Homo sapiens: one gene and its partners. The protein of the gene in region 1 interacts with the protein of each later gene in a biochemical or structural test. Each region holds a gene or a part of one and is shown on either strand. Other genes may lie near its edges.

Region 1 (7,886 bases):
AACGTTTAAGGCAGTTTGGAAATGCATTTGTACATTTCTACAACGTCCATAAATTCTCTTGAAAATAAGAATGTTAACTTCAATTCTATAAAATACACTGTACATTTTAAGACTGTTCTAAATATAGCACACTTCACAATGGACTGTGGGTTTTGATTCCTGATGACAAATGGATTCTATACATTTCAGGGGGGAAAGGTGTAATATGGATGTGAGTTTAAAACTTTTAATTTCTTTTTAAAAATAAATTATTTCTGAAGCATACAATTTATAAAAATTCTATATACAAAGTACAGCAACTGGTAACAAACCCCAGTTTTAATACATTTTATATACGATGTACCAGGGTTTAGCAACCCTGATAGGAGCAGAGGCAATATACATTCTCCGCATATTTAAACATAAAATTTCTTGATGTAAAGAACAAAAATGACAAAAAAACAAACATCATAAAGAGACTTTCATACATGGCAGTGCAGAGCTTTTTTAAATAAAAAGTTGCATTGTTCAACACCATGGCAACCCCTTAGATCAGCATTTTTGGACCCTTAATCCTAAGAAATGTGCTAAGAGATCAGAGTGGTAGCAATGAAATTAAGGTCAAGGGCTCAAACTTATCCAAAACCAATTTAGGGGTTCCCTCTAAGGCAATCGCCACCCACCCTCACCCCCACGTCACTGAGAATTCTGGGCGCAGATACAAACAGTGAAAGAATGAATCGGTAAGTGGGACTTTTCTGTTTACATAGGATTATAATATCCTCACTGGCCACAATCTGTAAAAGTCGATACTGGCACTTTTTTTTGCCCCCTCAAAGGAAATATGCTAATAGACAGCCCCTTTGCAAATATAATTCCTCCTTCCCAACCCTTCAAATTGCTAAGGCCCCACTGGTCAGCACCTTCCCTTTCGAGTCCAGGACTACTGTTCTGTCCCCCACATGCTTGCTTCCTCCCGGACGTCCTGAACACTGCAGCTAGCTTTCTGGACGGCAGACGAGTTGGGAGTTTCTGGAGCTTGGAATTGGGGCGGGGGAGGAGGTCCAAGAAGTCAAGCTCCGGAGAGGAGCTTCAGGGGAAGTGCCCAGAGTCGTGGCCGGGGAACCGGCTACACCAAGTTGACTTGGAAAAAGTTTTGGGAAGTATCCCCAACCATCCCTTCTATCTGTCCCAAGCCACAGGTGCCCGGCGCGGGGTCGAGGCGAGCACGGGAGTGGGACGCGGGCTCTCCCGCAGCCAACGGCGGGGGGCGCGAGGGCTAAAAGAGCGGCCCAAGCAGCAGCAGCAAGATGGAGGCGAGTGGGGTCCAGGCGCCCCGGGGCGCCAAGCGGCCGCCGCCGCCGCTGCTCCTGCGCCCAGGCCCATAGGGCAGGTCCCCGCGGCCGCCCGATGCAGCAGCGCCGCTGCCCGGGCGCGGTGGGTGCGGGACGCCGTCGTCGTCGTCCAGCGGCTGCTCACCACCCGCGCCCCCGGTGCGCTGCTCGTCATCGTAGTCCTCATCGTAGTAGTCGTCCAGGCCCCCGTCCGAGCCGCTGCTGCCGGGGCCGTTGCCCAGCTCGGCGCCGAAGCACAGGCGGGCCATGTTCTCCTTGACCGACTCGCAGATGGGCCGCTCGAGGCCGTCGCACACGCAGTCGTTGAGCAGCGCCGCCTTGGGCATAGCCAGCATGTCCTCAATGACGGTGCGGCATTCGTCCGTGCAGCGCAGCCCGTTGAAGACTTTGCCGCAGTAGGTCAGGTAGCGGCTCAGCGCCAGGTTGCAGCGGCTGTCGCGGTCGCAGCGCCGCCGGGCCTCGGTGCAGCCCATGACCCCGCCCGCGCCGGGGCCGCCCGCGCCGCCGCCGCTCGTCCGGGGCAGGCACGGCTCAATGGCGCGCTTGGTGGACTTGCAGTTCTCGTCCTGCGCGCAGTCACAGTCCTCCAGGGCGGGCCCGCGGCGCGTGTGGTTGAGCTGAATGAGGGCCGAGATGCAGTGACTCGGGCAGCGCCAGCGCGACGAGAAAGAGGCGGCCGAGGCCGGGAAAGCGGCGGCGGCGGCCCCGGGCGCGTCGCCCCCGCCGTGCTGCGCCAGCACCGGCGCGCACGCCTCGGCGTACTGGTTGTAGGCGTAGCTGCACTCCGGCTCCCCCTGGCACTGCAGCAGCGCCTGCCAGCAGATGAGGCGGCGGCCGTGCGCCAGCCCCGATCCCCGCGGCGCCGAGCCCAGCAGCTGCAGCAGCGCCATCAGGCACAGCCAGGCGCCCGGCACTGTCCCCCCGCGGGCCTCGCCGCCGCCGCCCAGCAGCGCGGCCACCATCGCGGGCAGCGGCGGCCGCCGGGAGAGGAGGGGAAAGGAGACGAGGCGCGGGGAGCGGCGGACGCGGAGCCGGTGGAAAAGTTTGTCCAAGTCCTGCCCACTTCTTGCATGAGTGTCTTCATAAATCCATGCGCGCCGCTGGCTGATGCCCCGCTGGTGGCAGAAGGTCCCCTTTCGCTCTGGCTGCGGTGGCTTCCTGGAAATGAACAGCTGTCGAGATCTGGTCCCGCTCTCCCACCCGAGAGCCCTCCGCTCGGCCCCCGGTGGTGGCGGGAGAGGCTCACTGTCGCCCCGGGGGGGTGCGGGCCGCGGGGCCGTGGCGGGGCTGCAGGACCGCGCGGCGCGGCGGGTGCATTTTGCTCCGCGCCTGCAGATCCGTTGTGCGGCCGGCTGTCCCCGTGCCGGCTGCTCGCGCTGCGGCCGCGGCGGCTCCTTCCTCCTGGGCTCAGTGCCTCGCCGCCGCCACCGCCGCCGCGGTCTCTCGCATCGCGCCGCTTCCTGGCCCGGCGTCCGCGCGCTGCCCGCCTTCCCGCGGCCCGGCCGCCCCGCGTCCCCTCCCCCTCCGCCCGCGGCAACCCCGGCCTCCGCAGAGCTCCGGGGAGCTCTTTCCGGGAAGCGCGGGGAGAACAAGAAAGTCGGCGCTGCCGGAGAGCGGCTCCCTGGCTTCACTCGGCGGCAGCTTCTCGGGTGACCAAGAGCCCGGGGAGCGGATCCGCTGAGCCCGGCTGCAGACTCGTTAGCAGCGAGGCTTTAAATACAAAAGTGGGCCGGGAGCCCCCGCGTGGTGCCGCGGTGCCCCCTCATTATGCATGCATGGAAAAGCAAACAAACAAAAACATTAGCAACGCTCCTCCGGCTCGCCGAGCCCCGGCCCCGCGCGCTCCGAGCCTGCCCGCTTTCTCCTTTCTCCACTCTCTTTCGCCCTTTGCTCGGCCCCCTTTCCCGGCTTTTCGAGATGCTATTGGTCCTGCCTGTTGTTGTTGAAAGTTTTTTTTTTTTTTTTTACGAGCCGCTGGAGTGGGGTTGCGGAGTGGGGGAGGGCGGGAGGGTGGTGGGCAGCTCACATTCAGGCATTCAGGGCTTGAAAGGAACGGCTTAGGGAGCCTGACGGAGGCCCGGAGCTCCTCCTACTCTTAAGGAGGCTCGGATATGCAGCCCCAGCTCGCGCACAGAACCAGCGGGCAGGGCTTAGGGGCAGCTGTTTGCATCCGGCTCAGCCACGGGCCTTTTTTGTTTGTTTTTTTTTTCTTTTTTTTTTTTTTTGTAGTTTTATTAATTCTCGCTGGCCCCCATCTGTGCTTTCGACTGGATTCAGAACTCAGTTTATCTTCCAGGCTCCCTGTCTTTGGGTCTTGATCACCACAGAGGGGAAGGGGAGAATCCAGAGATAAAATGTGAGACTGAAACTGTTTTAAAGAAGCATACAAGAAAGAAGCACACACTTTATTAGGGAGATGTTGATGAGATGCTTACAACCCGCCCGCCACCCCCCAGCCCCAGCTAGGCCATCTGGCAGGTACCGCCCGTGCGCCAGGCATCGTTTTCAAATTGCAAGACCGAAATCCAATCAACCGAAATAATTTCTTAGGAAGATAAGCTTGCAACACGTGCAATAATGAAAAAATTTAACTAGCATTAAAAATATTCAGGAATGTCGAGCAATTACCACCTGGCCGCAGTCACAGGACAGAAGACGGAATAAATGGGCACGCACCAAAGGTTTATATTAAAGTGTAAGTTTCAGCCCCTCAGTATATTTAAGGGAGGCTGCTCTGCAGAGGAAACCTCTGCCTTCTCGGCGAGGGAGTTTCCGAGCTACCTTAACTGGGGCGCAACGCAGCCTTCCGCCACCAGAGGCAGCGGGCGTCTGCGGCCTGTCAAAAACTGGCGCTTTTTTCCTCCCCTTTCCGTGGAGAGACTATCAACTCCATCTGTCACAAAAATTAAGGCTAAATCTCCTCTCCAGAAGCAGAGGGAGCCGGGGCTCCGACGCGCTCAGCGTCGGGCTGTCTGCCTCTCCCTAGAGGCCAAGTGAATTTGAAATGGCAAAAGTCACAGCCGGAGGCCCAGCACTAGGAGATTCCTCCGGCTGCGGGAAATCTTCCTGTACCTGCTGAAGCTGCTGCGTTCCTCAGAGGCGCTTGGTCTGCCGTGGGAAGCTGCACCTCTGCAGTCCCCAAAACCAAAATCAAACCTTAAAAGAGCCAGACTGAGGTAAGGCGGACCGTCTTGCTCTGATTTGAGTATTGGTAGACAAACAGCAATATAAATCGATACTAAAAAAATCCAGAAAGGCTGCAACTTCATGGCACATCAAAACAACCATATCCCTGGCTCTCTGTCTCTTTTTTTTTCTCTATTATTTGGAGTTGTCCTCTCAGTCCGGCCTGGAGGACTTGGACAACTCAGACACCTTCTCTGTGTCTGGGATCCCTCCACAGGTAAGGTTCGAAGCCAATTAGACAATTGAAAAATCCCCTCTTGTCTTTAAAGCTTTGTTATTTTAGGCCCATAAGGAACAAAGTCAGCACTCGGTTTCATCTTTACTTGAATTTTTGTTGAGTTCCTTTAGAATAGTGGGACCCAAACCTTAGCACGTATCCTAAAACTCAGATCCCTAGTTTTTGGAGTTTCTGATTTAGTTGGACTGGTGGGTCCCAAGAATATGCATTTCTAACAAGTTCTCAGGGAATGCTGCTCTCAAACTTTGAGAATCACTGCTCTCAAAGTTAACATGTTTCTTTTCTGTGTTGTTGCTGTGTTTTTGGTAACACTTGCCCCACCTTGGCCTTGATACAGCTCTCAGTGGGGTTTAAGGGAGGCCCAAGAGCTCTGCATGCTTTGGGGACTTCTGCATCCCAGTCACATAGCATTAGCATTGCAAGCCTGAGGGGTTCTCAGCCCACTTTTTACTGTGTCATTTCCATTCACCACAATAGGCTATACTGTCTTCTATCTTAAAAAAACATAATAGTAAAACCTTCTAGACTCCACGTCCCTATTCAGTCACTATCCCATTTTCATGAAAACTTGAAAATCTTGCTTTTACTCACTTTCCCCACTCGATTCACTCTACATAATCGAGTTCCATTCGATTATGTAGAGTCGCTAGTGACCAAAACCTTGCTCTACCTGATTGTCACTTCTCAGTCCTCAGCTTATATGACGTTTCAGCAGCATTGGCCATGACTGATCACCTCCTTTTCAAAGCGCTTTCTAAAATTTTGGCTTCCGAAACTCCATACTCCCCTGTTCTCTCATTTTACTGCCTGGTGGCTCCTTCTGTCTCTCAACTCCTTAGGTAACCACATCTAGTGCCTTGATTTTAAATTGCATCTCCTAATTTGATGTTTTCAATCTCAGTCTTTCTCTGATCTCCATATGTATATATTCACTTGGTTCCAAGGACATCTCAAACTTAAGCTTCCCCAAGAGCACTTCTAAATTTCCATCCCCAAAACCTATTTGTTTACTGGGCTTACTGTGGTAGATACCCTCCAAAATTGGTCTCCATCACTTTTCTCCCTACCTTTACATCCTTACTACTCAGATCAAAAGGCAGAGTATAATCCCCTTCCCCTTGAGTCTTGGGTAGGCCTTACTGACTTTGACCAATAGGACATAGTGAAAGTGACTGACATTCTGGGGCCTCCAAGGCTAGATCACAAGAAGCCTTGCAGCTTCTACTCGGGCCTTGTATTAGTCCGTTTTCACACTGCTGATAAAGATATACCCAAGATTGGGCAATTTACAAAAGAAAGAGGTTTACTGGACTTAGGGTTCCACATGGCTGGGGAGGCCTCACAATTATGGTGGAAGGCAAGGAGGAGCAAATCACATCTTACATGGATGGCAGCAGGCAACGAGAGGGCTTGTGCAGAGAAACTCCTGTTTTTAAAACCATCATATCTCATGAGACCCATTCACTGTCATGAAAACAGCATGGGAAAGATACACCCCCATGATTCAGTCATCTCCCACTGGGTCCCTCCCACAATATGTGGGAATTATGGGAGCTACAAGATGAGATTTGGGTGGGAACACAGAGCCAAACCTTATCAGGCCTCTTGGAATACTTGCTCTGCAGAAGCCAGTCACCACGTAAGACATCTGGACCACCTTCAGACTCGCATGCTGTGAGGAAGCCCATGCTTACTATGTGTAGAGGATACATGGAGAAGGAAAGAGATGCCTGGCCAGCTCCCTGCTGTTTCAGCCATGTGAGTGAAGAAGGCACCAGACTTGTGAGTGGAGACACTAACTTGGATGTCCAGCCCAGCTGAACCTTCAGGTGACTCCAGCTCTAGCTGCCATCCTACTGAAGACACATGAGAGAGACCCCAAGCCAGGGTCAAGATCAGCGTGAAGCAAGTGAGGCATTTTGGTGCAAAATGTAAGGAGGCATTGACCTTCATAATTGGGCTCCAAGACTCCAAGAGTGAGTGCCTCCTTAAATTTTGTACTTTAGACACTACACTCACCTTTCTCTAGTTCTGGTCTTGCCTCAAGCAAGAAGAGCAGAGCTTAGCTCAGTCAACCCAAAGAATCCTGAGAAATAACAAAAAAATATTCTTTTAAGCCACTCAGTTTTGAGATGGTTTGTTATGCAACAATAGAGCATTAGAACTTTTCTTCCTGTCCAATTGCTTAGGTGAAAGATGCTAGTATCTGCCTGAATTCTTTCCTTTTCTTCACATTCTACATTCAATTAATGGCTCATCATAGGTGTCAATAAAATATTTGATAAGTTGAATGAATGAAGAATCAGCACTTCTTGTCTTCTAAATCAGCCAACTCAGAACTAGTCCAAATCATTTCTACTACAAAGAACAGTAATAAAGACCCTGAGAGATTAAAGAATACAGAATAGTTCTGAAGTTTTAAAATATAAAATTATATTTCCAAAAGGGTTGACTGGTTCAGTGAAAGAACAAAAACCTCAATCAACAAATACCAATTACCTTTTGGTGCTTTAGCAACATAACCCAGATAAAGTAGGAGGAGATAGACTTCTGCCCTCAGAGGACTCAACAATATGTCACTTGGCCATTTGGAGTTGTCAGAGGCTCTAACCACTTAGCAGAAGTCTTAAGTCACAGACACCCTGTATTAGTGTGTTCTCACACTACTATAAAGACTGGGTAATTTATTTAAAAAATAGGTTTAATCTGCTCATGGTTCAGAAGGCTTTATAGGCTTCTGCCTCTGGGGAGGCCTCAGGAAGCTTACAATCATGGCTGAAGGCAAGTGGAAGCAAGCACTTCTTCACATGGCTGGCAGGAGAGAGAGAGCAAAGGAGAGGGGTGCTACACATTTTCAAACAGCCAGATCTTTTGAGAACTCACTCTCACAAGAACAGTATGGGGGAACTCCCTCCATCCCTTCCCCATGATCCAATCACCTCCCACCAGGTCCCTCCTCCAACACTGGAGATTATAATTCAACATGAGATTTAGGTGGGGACACAGAGCCAAACCATATCACATTCACTCTCTTGTTTTCTTTATTTACTTGCATTCTTAAAACCAGAAAATATTAATACTTCAGTTTGTGGCAGATACTGCATGGAAACCAAGCACCATCTACTCTA
Region 2 (7,023 bases), on another chromosome or scaffold:
TTTTGATTTAGCAAATGACCTGCAACTCTCTGGAGAAGCGGCAGTTCCCAAGGAAAGCCTGACTTCTTATCAGCAGCTGGCTGCCCTTGTACCTGGCAGGGACTTGGGCCTGTCCCAGGTGTCCAGGGAGGAAAGAGGAGCAGTCAGAGCCAGAGTCACGGCCACATGTGACATTGGTAATGGGAGGGGTGGGGGGGAAGCAGAGCCCCTGTGACAGGAAACGGTGATGCTGCACCTGGTAGCTCCCATCCCTAGCACCCCTCCAGGGCCACAGCTTGCACAGCCCTCACAACCACCCTGAGCCCTGTCTGCTGGTGAGAGGCAAGCCTCAGGCTATGAATGCAGAGCAGGCATCCCTGCCCTACCCAGGCCTATCTGCCAGGGACAGCCAGGGTGCAGGGGAGGGAGGAGACTTGGGTGGGCAACTCCCTCCGGCGCAGCCCAGGCAGTTCCTGGAGGAGGCAGCATCTGAGGTTGGTCGTGGTTCTACGCACTTAGTTGCTGCCCTCTTCATCCTGAGCCTCCAGGGTGGAGCTTGAGGAATGGGAGTCCCTGGGTGGGGGCCAGTGTGGAATTTGCCCTGGGCCTGCATTTCGTAGGAGGCCTAAGCCCTCCAAGGTGGGGAGAGGCTTCATGCACAGCCAGTTCCTGTGGAGGAAGAAACCACAGGGTAATTTAACAGGGAGAGTTTGTGTAAAGAATTAATTACAACAGGGGATTGGAGCAATGAGGGACAGGCTAGCAAAAAGCAAAGAGAATGCCAGAGAATATGGGAAGAGCAGCTCTGAGGAGCAGCCGCCCACCTAGGGCTGAGATGGAGGCTGGGAAAGCCCTCGCAGCCCAGCTGAAATGGCTATGGCGCTTCGGTGATGGAACTTGCCGGAAATGCCCCCTCTAGGCATTGGGGAAGTATGTCTGCGGCCACTCCAAACCTCCTGAGGAGGGTGTGGCAGGGGGGGTGCTGGTCACCCCTTACTGGAGAAGTTGCCACCATCAGAGTTGGGGAGCCTTAGACCCAGTGCTCAACACACCTCCCTGAGGAAGGGGCCTCTAAGCCAAGAACTGAATGATGAGAGCTAGGCCTGTGGGGCATTGGTGCTGGGCAGCAGGGCTGTGCAGCAGAGGTAAGGAGGTGGCAGGCAGAGCTGGAACACCAGTCTGAGCCTTGTGGACCTTGGTGGGGACCAGGGTTTACACCAGCCCTGGAGCTCCTGCCTCCTCCCCATTCCCGACTGCCTGGCAGATGTGGCCGATGCCCCCACAGACCTGACTTCTCTCTGCAGACCGCGGCTTTCCCCTGCTCACCGTCTACCTCAAGGTCTTCCTGTCACCCACATCCCTTCGTGAGGGCGAGTGCCAGTGGCCAGGCTGTGCCCGCGTATACTTCTCCTTCTTCAACACCTCCTTTCCAGCCTGCAGCTCCCTCAAGCCCCGGGAGCTCTGCTTCCCAGAGACAAGGCCCTCCTTCCGCATTCGGGAGAACCGACCCCCAGGCACCTTCCACCAGTTCCGCCTGCTGCCTGTGCAGTTCTTGTGCCCCAACATCAGCGTGGCCTACAGGCTCCTGGAGGGTGAGTGCCGACCTTGTGGGGCCGCCCCACAGTGCCTGCTACTGCTGGTCTTGCTCTGCGAGCCCTTGACACAAGCCATCTGGTTTATTCTTCACCTTCATGCCATCAGTTCATTCAATATTCCAGAAGTACCTCTTGCATGCCTGCCAGGGGCCAGGTACTGTTCTAGGAGCTAAGGATATAACAATGAACACAACGGGTTGGAATCTTGCCTGCCTGCAGCTTTCATTCTTGTGGGGCAGACAGAGCGTCTGAGCATGCCAAGGAAATCAGGTGGCTTCTGGAAGGAGCTAGCTGGGGAGGAAACTGGGAAGAGGGAAACGCTGAAGAGGAGGGGAACAGACGAGGAGACCTCCATTCCTCTATCGTAAATTGGGTGGTCAGGGTGGGGGCTAGCAGAGCAAAGGTGGGAGGGTGCCGGGTAGGCAGGCCTAGCCCCTTGGAGGGCACCACAGTGTGACCCTCGTGTGCCTGGAGTGCACTGAGCGACAGGGAAGAGCTGAGGCTGATGGGGCAGAATAGTTCCTGGGGCAGGGGGCAGGTCTGGGAGTGGCTTGCAGGGCTTTCTCCGGAGGAACATGGGGAGCTATGGAAGACTTTGGAGGGAGGGAGTGCTGGCAGGACCTGACTTAGTTTTAAAAGGATTAGTCAGACTACTGTGTTAGGAATGGTTTGGGGTGGGAAGGTTCAGGGGCGAAGCTGGGAGACAATCAGAAGGCTACAGGAGAAACCTCTGAACAGGAGGATGTGGGGTGTGATGCCGGGATACGGGTGGAAGCCGAGGCATGGCGAGAAGCAGGCAGCTGCAGCCAGTCAGAGGGTGGGATGAGCTGGATCCCAGTGGAGAGGGGAGAAGGCAGCTGACTAGGTGCAGGGAGGCCCCATTTGACCATCAGAAAGTCAGGAAGTGGGGCTCAACCAGGTCACAGAGGCTGCACCGCTGGCAAGTGTGTCCTAAATTCACACTAACTTTATCACACAAACATGGCAAGAATATTAAAATCTCAGTAAAGGAAGACAAGCCATCACTTATGCTTCCCCAGATTCCTTTCATTCTCTGGGGCAGGGTTGATGGAGCACTTGGTTTTTTGCATGCTGCCCTTTTTCACTAAAAATTATGTGATTAAATTTAGTTTAGTGGGGGGTTTTTTGTAATCACACTCAACAGAGGAAAGCATTATATGATAAGCATTTCCCACATACGTAATTCATGCGCAAGGCATGGTTCTGCCTGGGAGGCTTGTGGAGTTGCCCCCGCCTCCTTGGGGTGGGTTGTGGGGTCTTCAGCGGTGACCTTCCGCCTTCAGCATGCCCCCTTTTCTGGATTATTTCTGGAGGACAAATCCGAGGTCAGGCTCGTTGAAGACTGTGTTGTGGTTCCTGGCCCTGCTTCAGGGGCGATGTAGTCTAGCGCGAGCTGCCATGCAGGGCACGGAGCATTCGCTTTTGTCTCGACATCCGGCCTTCAGAGGATGACCAGCCTGGCGACGCACTGGACAAGGAGGTGTAGAGTGGGGATGCACACTAGGCGGTCGGAAATCATTATGCGTTAATGTCACATCATACCCCAGATGTCCACTGTGTTTGTTTTCAAGTGGTAGAATCGTGGCTTTCTCACGTTCTCTAAAATGAACACATATTGCTTCCATAATTGAAAAAAAAAAAAACCTAACAGTTTTTAAAAAGCAGCCAAGGTCACCAATATGGTGAAAGGCCGTCCCTACTAAAAATACAAAAATTAGCCGGGCATGGTGGCGGGCGCCTGTAGTCCCAGCTACTCGGGAGGCTGAGGCAGGAGAATCGCCTGAACCCGGGAGTTGGAGGTTGCAGTGAGCCAAGATCGCGCCACTGCACTCCAGCCTGGGCAACACAGCGAGACTCCATCAAAAACAAAAAAAAAGCAGCCAAGGCCAGTAGCTGGCTCTCTAGGGCTGCAGTGCAGCTTGGGCTGAGGCAAAGCCACCCTTCCCCACACAAGGCCACTCCTGATCAAGGCCAGGTGGGCGGAGGGGTGTCCCAGTCCCTACTGGTTGATCAGGGTGCCTGGTCCTGGCTCTTCCCAACCAGCACGAGTGAGGACGCAGCTGCAGCAGGACGTAAGCACAGTCATCGCTGCAAACTGCAAACTCGTAAGCACAGTCATCGCTGCAAACTGCAAACTCGTGCTCCGAGCGCTGCCCTCCCCTGTGGAGCGGAGGAGGGGAGGCCTGGGGCCGCGGCGGTGTGCGCCCCGCTCTGACCGCAGAGCCCCCTTCCCGAGGAAAGCGGCTGGCCCGGTCCCGGCTGGTGATCACGCGGGGCCCCTGTCTGCTTGGTGCGCAGGTGAGGGTCTGCCCTTCCGCTGCGCCCCGGACAGCCTGGAGGTGAGCACGCGCTGGGCCCTGGACCGCGAGCAGCGGGAGAAGTACGAGCTGGTGGCCGTGTGCACCGTGCACGCCGGCGCGCGCGAGGAGGTGGTGATGGTGCCCTTCCCGGTGACCGTGTACGACGAGGACGACTCGGCGCCCACCTTCCCCGCGGGCGTCGACACCGCCAGCGCCGTGGTGGAGTTCAAGCGGAAGGAGGTGCTTGTCCGCGCGTGCTGTGGTCTACCCAGTGTCTGTCTCCGGCCACAGTTCGTTTCTCGGTCGGTTTAGTGTCCGTGTAGCCACCCAACCGTGTGGCCGACCATTCGCGCTTTCATTTGTCCTTCGCCTCCGTCTGCGCCGTCTGTCCTAGGGGGAGGGGAAGGGGGAGTCCTGCCAGCACCCAGCTGGGCCTTGCCTCGGGAGGCAAGGACCAGGACGAGGCCCGAGGGCTCGCGTCTGGGGCATACTTGTGCCGCTGCAGGCGGGCGCGGCGCGCTGCCCGGGCGGGGAGCATCTGCCGGGAGGGCACTCCCTCCCACCAGCAGTTAGCCCCCAACGGGAGGGCCCTTGAGTGACCACGAGCAGAGCCGGGGATTGGAGAAGGACGGGAAGGCGGATCACCTCCGGCGCCGCCCGCCCCGCCCTTCTCCGGCTCGCGCTGGTGGAGCGCGACCGCCACCTGCTGGGCCTCGGCCTTCCTGCAGCCGGCCCACCCAGCAGGGGCCGTGGGAGAGTGGGCGTGGGGACTGAGGTAGGTAGTACGTTGCCTTGTTCCGCTTCTCTGGGCACACCACGTGCAGGTTTGGCAGGGAAAGGGGGTCTGGTCGAAAGCACAATTTGTGAGTAAAGGCTATGTGGGCCTCCCTGGGGTGACAGCAGAGGCCTGGTGGGCAGAGCCATCCAGGTGCCCAGCGGCTTTCCTCACAACCCCCTCCAGCCTGGGGTAGGAGGATGCTTGGAACAGAGCGCTCTGATGTACACCTGGCCTCGGAGCTCGGCTCTGCCGGCTGTTCCTGTGTGACCTTGACCTGACCTTCACCCTGTGGGGCCCAGCTTCCTCAGGGGAGAGTGGAGGTGCTCATCCTGCTCTCTGGGGACCTGGATGGGACCTGCCAGCAGGGTGCCTGGGCATCGGCTGTAATTCTCCTTATAAGAGGTCTGCATTGTACCTGTTACACAGGCGAGGCTCAGTGGCTCAGGGAAGGTGACGGCCAGGCTGGCCAGTGACCCCGTGGGAACTTGAACCCAGGTCAGACTGTCCCCAGACCTGGCTCTGACAACACACATCTGGTCCACCTATGGGCTGTGTGGGACGTGCAGCATTCTAAGGTCTCTGGTTTTGGGGGGTCTGAGGGGCCCATCTCGCCTGCACTGACCAACGCCCTCTGCATCCTGCAGGACACCGTGGTGGCCACGCTGCGTGTCTTCGATGCAGACGTGGTACCTGCATCAGGGGAGCTGGTGAGGCGGTACACAAGCACGCTGCTCCCCGGGGACACCTGGGCCCAGCAGACCTTCCGGGTGGAACACTGGCCCAACGAGACCTCGGTCCAGGCCAACGGCAGCTTCGTGCGGGCGACCGTACATGACTATAGTAAGAGGGGCTGGTGGCACGGCCTGGCTAGGCCCCCAGGAAATGAGGTGCTCGCTCTTCATGGGCAAGCAGCACCCTACACACATGCACACCTGGCATGGCCCTCTGTGGCCCAAGCCACTTCCCCTCCACCCTCTGCCCAGCACTTCCTGTGTCTCTGCCAGGCCTGCCCTCCAGCCACCAGCAGGGCTTTCACCATGGGACCTCTCTCCCTGAGCTGATCCATGGCCGACCCTGGCAGGGCCCCACCACACCCCCCTGCTGACCTCACCAGGGCTCACCACCGACTGCAAACACACATGTCACCTGAGGCTTTCCTCCAGCCCCTGGCACTCCATCGTTGCCCCTAAGGCGTCCCAAGTGCTTACGGATTATTGCTCCAGCCTCAGCAGCTCTCTGCTAAACAGGCTGGTGTACAGAAGCAGCCCCGAGCCAGGTCAGGGCTTCTGAGCCCATTATCCTGCCTGACTGCTGACATGCCACCATGCTCACCTGCTTGCAGGGCACCTTTCAGCAGCGGCCTTGCTTCCTGCCTCCCTCCGCCACCTCCTGCAGATTTCTCCTGGGATCGCCTTCCAAATAAACCACCTGCATTTGGGGTCTGTGTCTGGTGGAACCCCAGGCCATGAGTCCTTCACCCCTTTCTGCCTGGCCTGGTCCTGTTCATTCCTCAGTCCTCCCCACCTCACCAAGCCTATGGAGGCCCCACTTGTCAGAGGGGAGACAGCCTCCTTGCCCTGGCACTGAACACCCTGTGTGCCAGAGTGCCCCTCCCATCATTGTTTCCACCACATGAGATCCACAGTGGCAGCACGCGGCAGGTACACCGATGGCATGACTTCCAGGGCTTGGCCTGCGGGGTCATTGGGTCTGCTGGAGGTTCCTGCAGTGGAGGGTAGTTCTGCCATGCTCTGGGGGAGCTGTCTGGAGGGCTCTAGTGTGTCCTTCCCAGGGCCTTGGTAATGTAGACCTTTAACCCCCCATGCCTCACACACACACACACACACACACACACACACACACACACACACCCTGTTACCCAAAAAACGAAACTCTGTAAAACATTTTAAAGAGGTTTATTCTGAGCCAGGATGAGTGACCACAGCCTGGAGAAAACACAAACCCAAGAAGCCTTGAGTAAGTGGTCCCCAGGTCCAAGGTGGTGGAGTTACAGTTTGCTTTTATACATTTTAGGGAGACAGGAGTTACAAGCAAGGACATAAATCAACACACAGAAGGTATACATTGGTTTGGCCCCAAAATGCAGGGTATCTTAAAACAGGGGCTTACAGGTTAGAGGTAGATGCAGAGATTCTTTAATTTACAGTTGGTTGAAAGAGTTAAGCTTTGCCTAAAGACTTCAGGTCAGTACAAAGGAATGTTAAGGAGGCCTGCTATGTGTCGCCTGATGCTATACAGGGTCAGGAGGGAAAGTAAACCACGTTATACCTGGGTAACTTAAAAAAAAAAGGTTTTTAACAAGATTTTATGGACCAGGCATAGTGGCTCA
Region 3 (7,023 bases), on another chromosome or scaffold:
TTTTTTACTTAACATATTTAGGAAATCATTCTATTATCAACATATATAGAGAGTTATTTGTTCTTTCTGTTGACATGCTTTTACTTATTTAGTTGTATGGCTGTACTGTAACATCTTTGGGTTAAATATTTGTTTCCAGGTTCTTCTCTTACAGCAATGAATGTCCTTGTACATACTGTGTTATGTGCTCATTTGCAAAGTTATCTGAACAATATGCTTTTAGAAGTAGAATTACTGGGTCAAGGGATATGTCTGCATTTTTGATTTGCAGACATGGAGCCAAACTGCCACCCGTTTCTGGGGGGTTGTACCAATTTATCCTCTCCCCCAAAGTGTATAGCTGGATAGATGATCTTTGGAGAATTCAGGAGGATCAACTACGATGCTTTTTCAGCTATTATATGCCTACTTTTCCTCCACAAATCCTCCCCCACCCTATGCGATTCTAGCCAGTTTCTTTGAATTTACAGAGGGAGATGTTGAGGCTCAGAAGGATAAAAGTAACTTGTGCAGGATGATCAGTGCGGGTGGTGGTGGGTGTTTTGTTTTGTATTTTTGCACCCCTCATGTTTGTATTTGCCAGCACCTTTCATTGGAGGTGCTCAGTGTCAGTTTGTAAACATTATTGCATTATTTTTCTCCATTTTCACATGGAAAAAAATGAGATGCAGGGGAAGTTTGAGTTATGAGAGGGAAACTGGCCAAATATAGAATCTTGTCATTTTACTTCCAGTGCAATAATAAATGTTTCCAAATGACAAAGCTGAAGAGATGTTTTTTGTTTGTTTGTTTGTTTGTTTGTTTTTTGAGATGGAGTTTTGCTCTTGTTGCCCAGGCTGGAATGCAATGGCGCTATCTTGGCTCACGCAACTTTTGCCTCCTGGGTTCAAGCGATTCTCCTGCCTCAGCCTCCCGAGTAGCTGGGATTACAGGCATGTGTCACTGTACCTGGCTAATTTTGTATTTTTAGTAAAGACGGGGTTTCTCCATGTTGGTAAGGCTGGTCTTGAACTCCTGACCTCAGGTGATCCGCTGGTCTTGGCCTCCCAAAGTCCTGGGATTACAAGCATGAGCCACCGTGCCCGGTGAAGAAATGGTTTTTTAGTGAGTCTGAGTACAACAAAAATAGCAATAATATAACACTAACTTAATAAAACTGAACAGCAGGCCCAAAAATAGCCCAACATTAAAATTTATTTTAATGTATTCTCTATGGAAAAGAGAATCCATTAAATGTAAAACTATTTATTTTACTCTAAATTCACATCCATTTGTGTCAGTGTACAAGACATAATTTTTATAGTAGCAGTCAGTACATATAGAATATGATTTTTGAATTCTTCAATAGCATAAAATATTTTATATTTACTCATTTAAGTATTTGTTCATTTAAAATCACAGGCTGGGTGCGGTGGCTCACGCCTGTAATCCCAGCACTTTGGGAGGCTGAGGCAGGTGGATCATGAGGTCAAGAGATCAAGACCATCCTGGCCAACATGGTGAAACCCCATCTCTACTAAAAATACAAAAATTAGCTGGGTGTGGTGGCGCGTGCCTGTAATCCCAGCTACTCGGGAGGCTGAGGCATGAGAATCACTTGAACCCAGGAGGCGGAAGTTGCAGTGAGCCAAGATCTTGCCACTGTACTCCAGCCTGGCGACAGAGCGAGACTCCGTCTCAAAAAAAAGAAAAAAAAAATCACAGTATAGTATTCCATGCATCGACAGCTGTAGTTTTTTTTAAATTTGTTTTTGTTTTTTTGAGACAGGGTCTCACTCTGCCACCCTGGCTGGAGTGCAGTGGCATGATCACAGCTCACTGCAGCCTTGACCTCCTGGGCTAAATGATCTTCCCATCTCAGCCACCTGAATAGCTGGGACTGCACAGGTCTGTGCCACCACGACCAGCTAATTTTTTTATTTTTTGTAGAGACATTTTTATGTTGCCCAGGCTAGTCTTGAACTCCTGGACTCAAGTGATCCACCCGCCTTGGCCTCCCAAAGTGCTGGGATTACAGGTGTGAGCCACCACTCTCAGCCAACAGCTGTAGTTGGTGCAATCCTTTTTATTCTTTTATTTTTTTCTACCTTTTTGCTATTATAAATGGTACTTTTATACCCCTTGTTCAAATACTTCTTTTGGATTATTTCCTTGGACTCTTACTCCCAACCTGGGCTCACCAAGTCAGAGGATACAGTTTCGGTGCCTAATTGCAATCTGGAAAGGTTGAACTAGTTTCCAGCACTATCAGCAATTTATGGGGCCATTTCTTGACAACCCATCTAGTGCTATTACAAAGAAATGTAATGATACCTTGAATTAGGTTTAATTTACATTGCTTTGGAAAAAGAGACCAGTAGCTGATTTAGATTTTTTGAAAGAAGTACAGTGCTGTGATATAGATTATCTCCAAGATTTATGTAACTGAAGCCAACTTGTGGTTGAAGAAAGATTTGGTTGATGAGATTGAAATATTGTGGAAGTTTAGAATAGGATCATAGCAGTATAAAATATAAGGCTAGATGCTGTTCAGTTGGAAATACCAGGCATTGTGCCGGAAGCTGGGGACACCCCAGAGTAACATAGATGTGATGTCTGTCCTCATGACACTTTTAGGTTAGTGCAGTAGACAGACATTAAAATCACCTATGGTAATTATAGATGTGATGAAAGGGGAAGAATAGGGTGTCGGGAGTGTCAGAGAAGTTCAGCAGCTAAACAACATTTGCAGTTAAACATTTGTGAAGGCCCTGAGCTGAGAAGGGATTTGGTAGCTCAGGGCAGCGCTTCGCTAACTTGAATGTGCTCATGAACCATCTGGGAATCTTGTTAAAATGCCAAGTCCTGAATCAGTAGGTTTGGGGTGGGACTTGGGATTCTGTGTTACTAACCAGCTCCTGGGTGAGGCAGATGCTGCTGGTGGGTGGATCACACTTGGTGTAGCAAGGCCTAATTGAGAGCTTGGTGAGCACCTAAAACTGGCTGACCATGGTGAGCAGGAAGGGGCAGGTGGCTTGCAGTGACAGAGTAATTCTCTGCCTAGGCTGCACTTTAGATTCACCTGGGGAACTTAGAAAAATCAGGGTTGCAAATGCCCCACCCGCAGCCATTTTAATTTAATTGGTCTCAGTTGGGGCCTGAGAATGTGTATACAGTCATGCACAGTATAACGATGTTTCCATCAAGGAGAGACTGCATATGCCACAGTGGTCCCATAAGATTATAATCCATAATTTTACTATACCTTTTCTATTTTTAGATATGTTTAAATACACAAATACTCACTGTGTTAGTTACTTACAGTATTCAGTACAGTAACATGCTGTACAGGTTTGTAGCCTAGGAGCAGTAGGCTATACAATATAGCCTAGATACGTAGCAAGCTGTACCATCTCATTTTGTGTAAGTACCTTTTATGATGTTTGCAGAATTATGAAATCACATCAGGACTCATCCTCAGAATGTGTTCCATTGTTAAGTGATGCATACCTGTATATATATTTTAACTCCCCAGGTGATTCTAATGTGTAGCCAGGCTTGAGAACTAGAGACTAAGGACAGTGTTGAGACTAGAGAATGGCAAGGAGCAGAGTTGAGGGTCCTGTATGGCATGCAAGGATTTTGGACTCTATCCTGAAGGCAGAGCTAAATCTTTGAAGGATTTTTAAGCAGGAGAGTGAACTGATCTGATTTGCAATTGTTAAAAAGTTCACTGTGGCTGTAGTCCAGAGCAGTAGTTTTCAAATTGAGGTAGATAAGATGATCCAGGGGAACTGGAAGAAAATTTAGAACTTTTTATTGTTTTTATCTAAAAGATAAGATAAAACATTTAATTTAGGAATTGTCTCTGGCATCTTCTTGGGTCTATAGGTCAAACAGTTAATGTGTTAACTGTAGAACTTTGGGTGTCCTGAAGGAAGAGACTGAATTCTGCAGTGAGCAGAGACATATTTATACATTTGTTCTCCATGTATTGCAACATGTTGTTAACAGTTTATATTAACCAGTTCTCATTGAACTAGCCTTTACAAAATGGACATGCAGAGAAACCAGTGATCAAAGAAAATACTAATAATACAAGCACAAGCAAACAAGTTGTCAGAGCTGACACTTGTCCAACTCCTGTGATGAATTCTTGGTGAGCTATTCAAATAAGTCAGCTCTTACTAAATTGGAAAGTATCAGGAAATTTATAAGAAACATGAACTTTCGTGCTCTGTCATTAATAGGAATCTTGCTTTAAGATTCCTTTTAATCGTATGTAGAACCCAGCTGCACGGTGGCTCACACCCATAATCCCACTGTTTTGGGAGCCTGAGGTGCAGGAGGCCAGGAGCTCAAGACAAACCTGGGCAACATAGCGAGACCCCATCTCTACCAAAAATAAAAAATTAGCCGTGTGGTGTCACGTGCCTGTAGTCCCACTTACTTGGGAGGCTGAGGCAGAGGATTGCTTGAACCCAGGAGTTCAAGGCTGCATTGAGCCATGATTGCACCACTGTACTCCAGCCTGGGGGACAGAGGGAGACTCTGTGTCTCAAAAAAAAAAAGAGGAGGACCGGGCATAGTGGGTCACACCTGTAATCCCAGCACTTTGGGAGGTCAGGGTGGGTGGATCACAAGGTCAAGAGATCGAGACCATCCTGGCCAACACAGTGAAACCCCATCTCTACTAAAAATACAAGAATTCGCCGGGCGTGGTGGCGTGTGCCTCTGGGTAATTTCAGCTACTCGGGAGGCTGAGGCAGGAGAATCCTCTGAGCCCAGGAGGCGGAGTTTGCAGTGAGCCGAGATCTCGCCACTGCACTCAAGCCTGGGTGACAGAGCAAGACTCTGTCTCCAAAAAAAAAAAAGTATGTAAAACCTTGAGATATTAAATAATAAAATATGAGGCTGTCACCAGTATGAAGACATTTGAAAACCAAAAATTTGGAACATAAAAAGAACCTCTACATTTTTTTTGCAGTGATGTTTAAAGATAAAGGATATTCCATCAGATGCTTTACAAAATTTTGCTAACTTCAATTATTAAAATTTATATTTTGAGGGTTTTTTGCTTTTAAGAGACAGGGTCTCACTCTGTTGCCCAGGCTGGAGTACAGTGGCACAATGATAGCTCACTGCAGCATTGAACTCCTGGGCTCAAGCGATCTTCCCACCTTGGCCTTCCAAAGCTCTGGGACTACACATGTGAACCACCATGCCTGGCCAGTTTTTAAGTTTATTGTTCTTATAAAAGACAAAATGGGGCCGGGTGCAGTGGCTCATGCATGTAATCCCAGCACTTTGGGAGGCCGAAGTGGACGGATCACTTGAGGTCAGGAGTTTGAAACCAGCCTGGCCAACATGGCAAAACCCTGTCTCTACTAAAAACACAGAAATTAGCCAGGTATGGTGGGCACACCTGTAGTCCCAGCTACTCGGGAGGCTGAGGCAGGAGAATCGCTTGAACCTGGGAGGCGGAGATTGCAGTGAGCTGAGGTTGCGCCGCTGTACTCCAGCCTGGGAGACAGAGCGAGACTGTTTCAGGGGAAAAAAAGAAAAAAGACAAAAAAACACATACCCTTGGCAGATTCTTCCTGCCCCACCCCCAAAAGGCCCACTTAAACAAAAAATGGACTGATGTACTACATGGAAAATAATTTTGTCAGGAAATCAAAATACTGTTGGAAGATGTATAGAAAACATTGCTGAATATGTGAACAAACAATATTAGAACAAATTTTGCAGTGTGGGAAGTTTGGTATACGGTTATAAAAGTACAGAAGCTTCTAGCATGTCTCAGTATCGCTAGATACTCTTTTTTTTCTTTTCTTTCTTTCTTTCTTTTTTTTTTTTTGAGACAGTTTTGTTCTGTCACCCAGGCTGGAGTGCAGTGGCACCATCATGGTTCACTGCAGCATTGACCTCCCAGTCTCAAGTGATCATCCTACCTCAGCCTCTCAAGTAGCCAGGACCACAGGCATGCACCACCATACCTATTTTTTTTATTTTTTATTTTTAGGAGAGATGAGGTCTCACTATGTTTCCCAGGCTGGCCTTGAACTCCTGGCTCAAGCAATCCACCTGCCAAAAGACCTTCCAAAGTGCTGGGATTACAGGCATGAGCCACCGTGCCAACTGTGCCAGGCCTAGATTACCTTTTAATAGTTACATCCAAGAATAAGGACCACTTCTTTTGTGAGCTACTGGAAGAAAGTTGTACTGGAGAAGACATATTTTTAATAGTAAATGATTGCCTTCATAAGAACATTACTATATGGAATAATAGACTGAATGTAAATTAATGGAACAGCTGCTTTGACTGAACAAAAGAATGAAATTCATTCATTACTTCTCTATGGGCAGGCTGTTGAGTCCACTTATTTGTTAATTATCTTGTGGTAGAGTTGTTGATGAGTTTTGCATTTTTCTTTTTTAAAAAAATGCCAACTTTTTGTTATGGTAAGTGGCTACAGTTTGAGTAATCCTAATATGAAATCCAAAAGGCTTCCAAATCCAACACTTTTTTTTTTTTTTTTTTTTTTTGAGACAGGTTCTCACTCTGTATGTAGCCCAGGCTGGAGCGCAGTGGCATGATCATGGCTCATTGCAGCCTTGACCTCCTGGGCTCGGGTGATCCTCCCACCTCAGCCTCCTGAGTAGCTGGGACTACAGGCATGCACCACCATGCCCAGCTAATTTTGCAACCAGTAGGAATAATGCAAATAGTACAAAATCTGAAAAATACCTAAATCTGAAACACTTCTGGTCCCAAGCATTTCAGATAAGGAATACTCAACCTGAACCTAGCAAATATCATTTGAAAAAATAATATCTTAATCTGTCTCTTCAAGTAAAAGTATTATTTAAATAGTGAGTGAAAAAGGAACTACTTCTTTTCTTAGAAAGAAATGTGCAGGCCGGGCGCGGTGGCTCACGCCTGTAATCCCAGCACTTTGGGAGGCCGAGGCGGGCGGATCACGAGGTCAGGAGATCGAGACCATCCTGGCTAACACGGTGAAACCCCGTCTCCACTAAAAA

The links.
Region 2: the proteins of GAS1 (region 1) and RET interact in a biophysical measurement, tested with the Homo sapiens proteins (one study listed by IntAct).
Region 3: the proteins of GAS1 (region 1) and PTPRA form a complex in vitro, tested with the Homo sapiens proteins (one study listed by BioGRID).

Annotation. Positions count from the first base shown.
Region 1 is NC_000009.12:86,944,484-86,952,369, forward strand, and holds the start of GAS1 (growth arrest-specific protein 1 precursor), read right to left. Parts: upstream 3,024-7,886; 5' UTR 2,297-3,023; coding exon 1,259-2,296; 3' UTR 1-1,258. UniProt on the Homo sapiens protein: Specific growth arrest protein involved in growth suppression. Blocks entry to S phase. Prevents cycling of normal and transformed cells. Binds 20(S)-hydroxycholesterol (20(S)-OHC).
Region 2 is NC_000010.11:43,101,059-43,108,081, forward strand, and holds part of RET (proto-oncogene tyrosine-protein kinase receptor Ret isoform a precursor), read left to right. Parts: intron 1-1,283; coding exon 1,284-1,571; intron 1,572-3,706; exon of another isoform or gene 3,707-3,893; coding exon 3,894-4,135; intron 4,136-5,317; coding exon 5,318-5,513; intron 5,514-7,023. UniProt on the Homo sapiens protein: Receptor tyrosine-protein kinase involved in numerous cellular mechanisms including cell proliferation, neuronal navigation, cell migration, and cell differentiation in response to glia cell line-derived growth family factors (GDNF, NRTN, ARTN, PSPN and GDF15).
Region 3 is NC_000020.11:2,876,471-2,883,493, forward strand, and holds part of PTPRA (receptor-type tyrosine-protein phosphatase alpha isoform 1 precursor), read left to right. Parts: intron 1-7,023. UniProt on the Homo sapiens protein: Tyrosine protein phosphatase which is involved in integrin-mediated focal adhesion formation.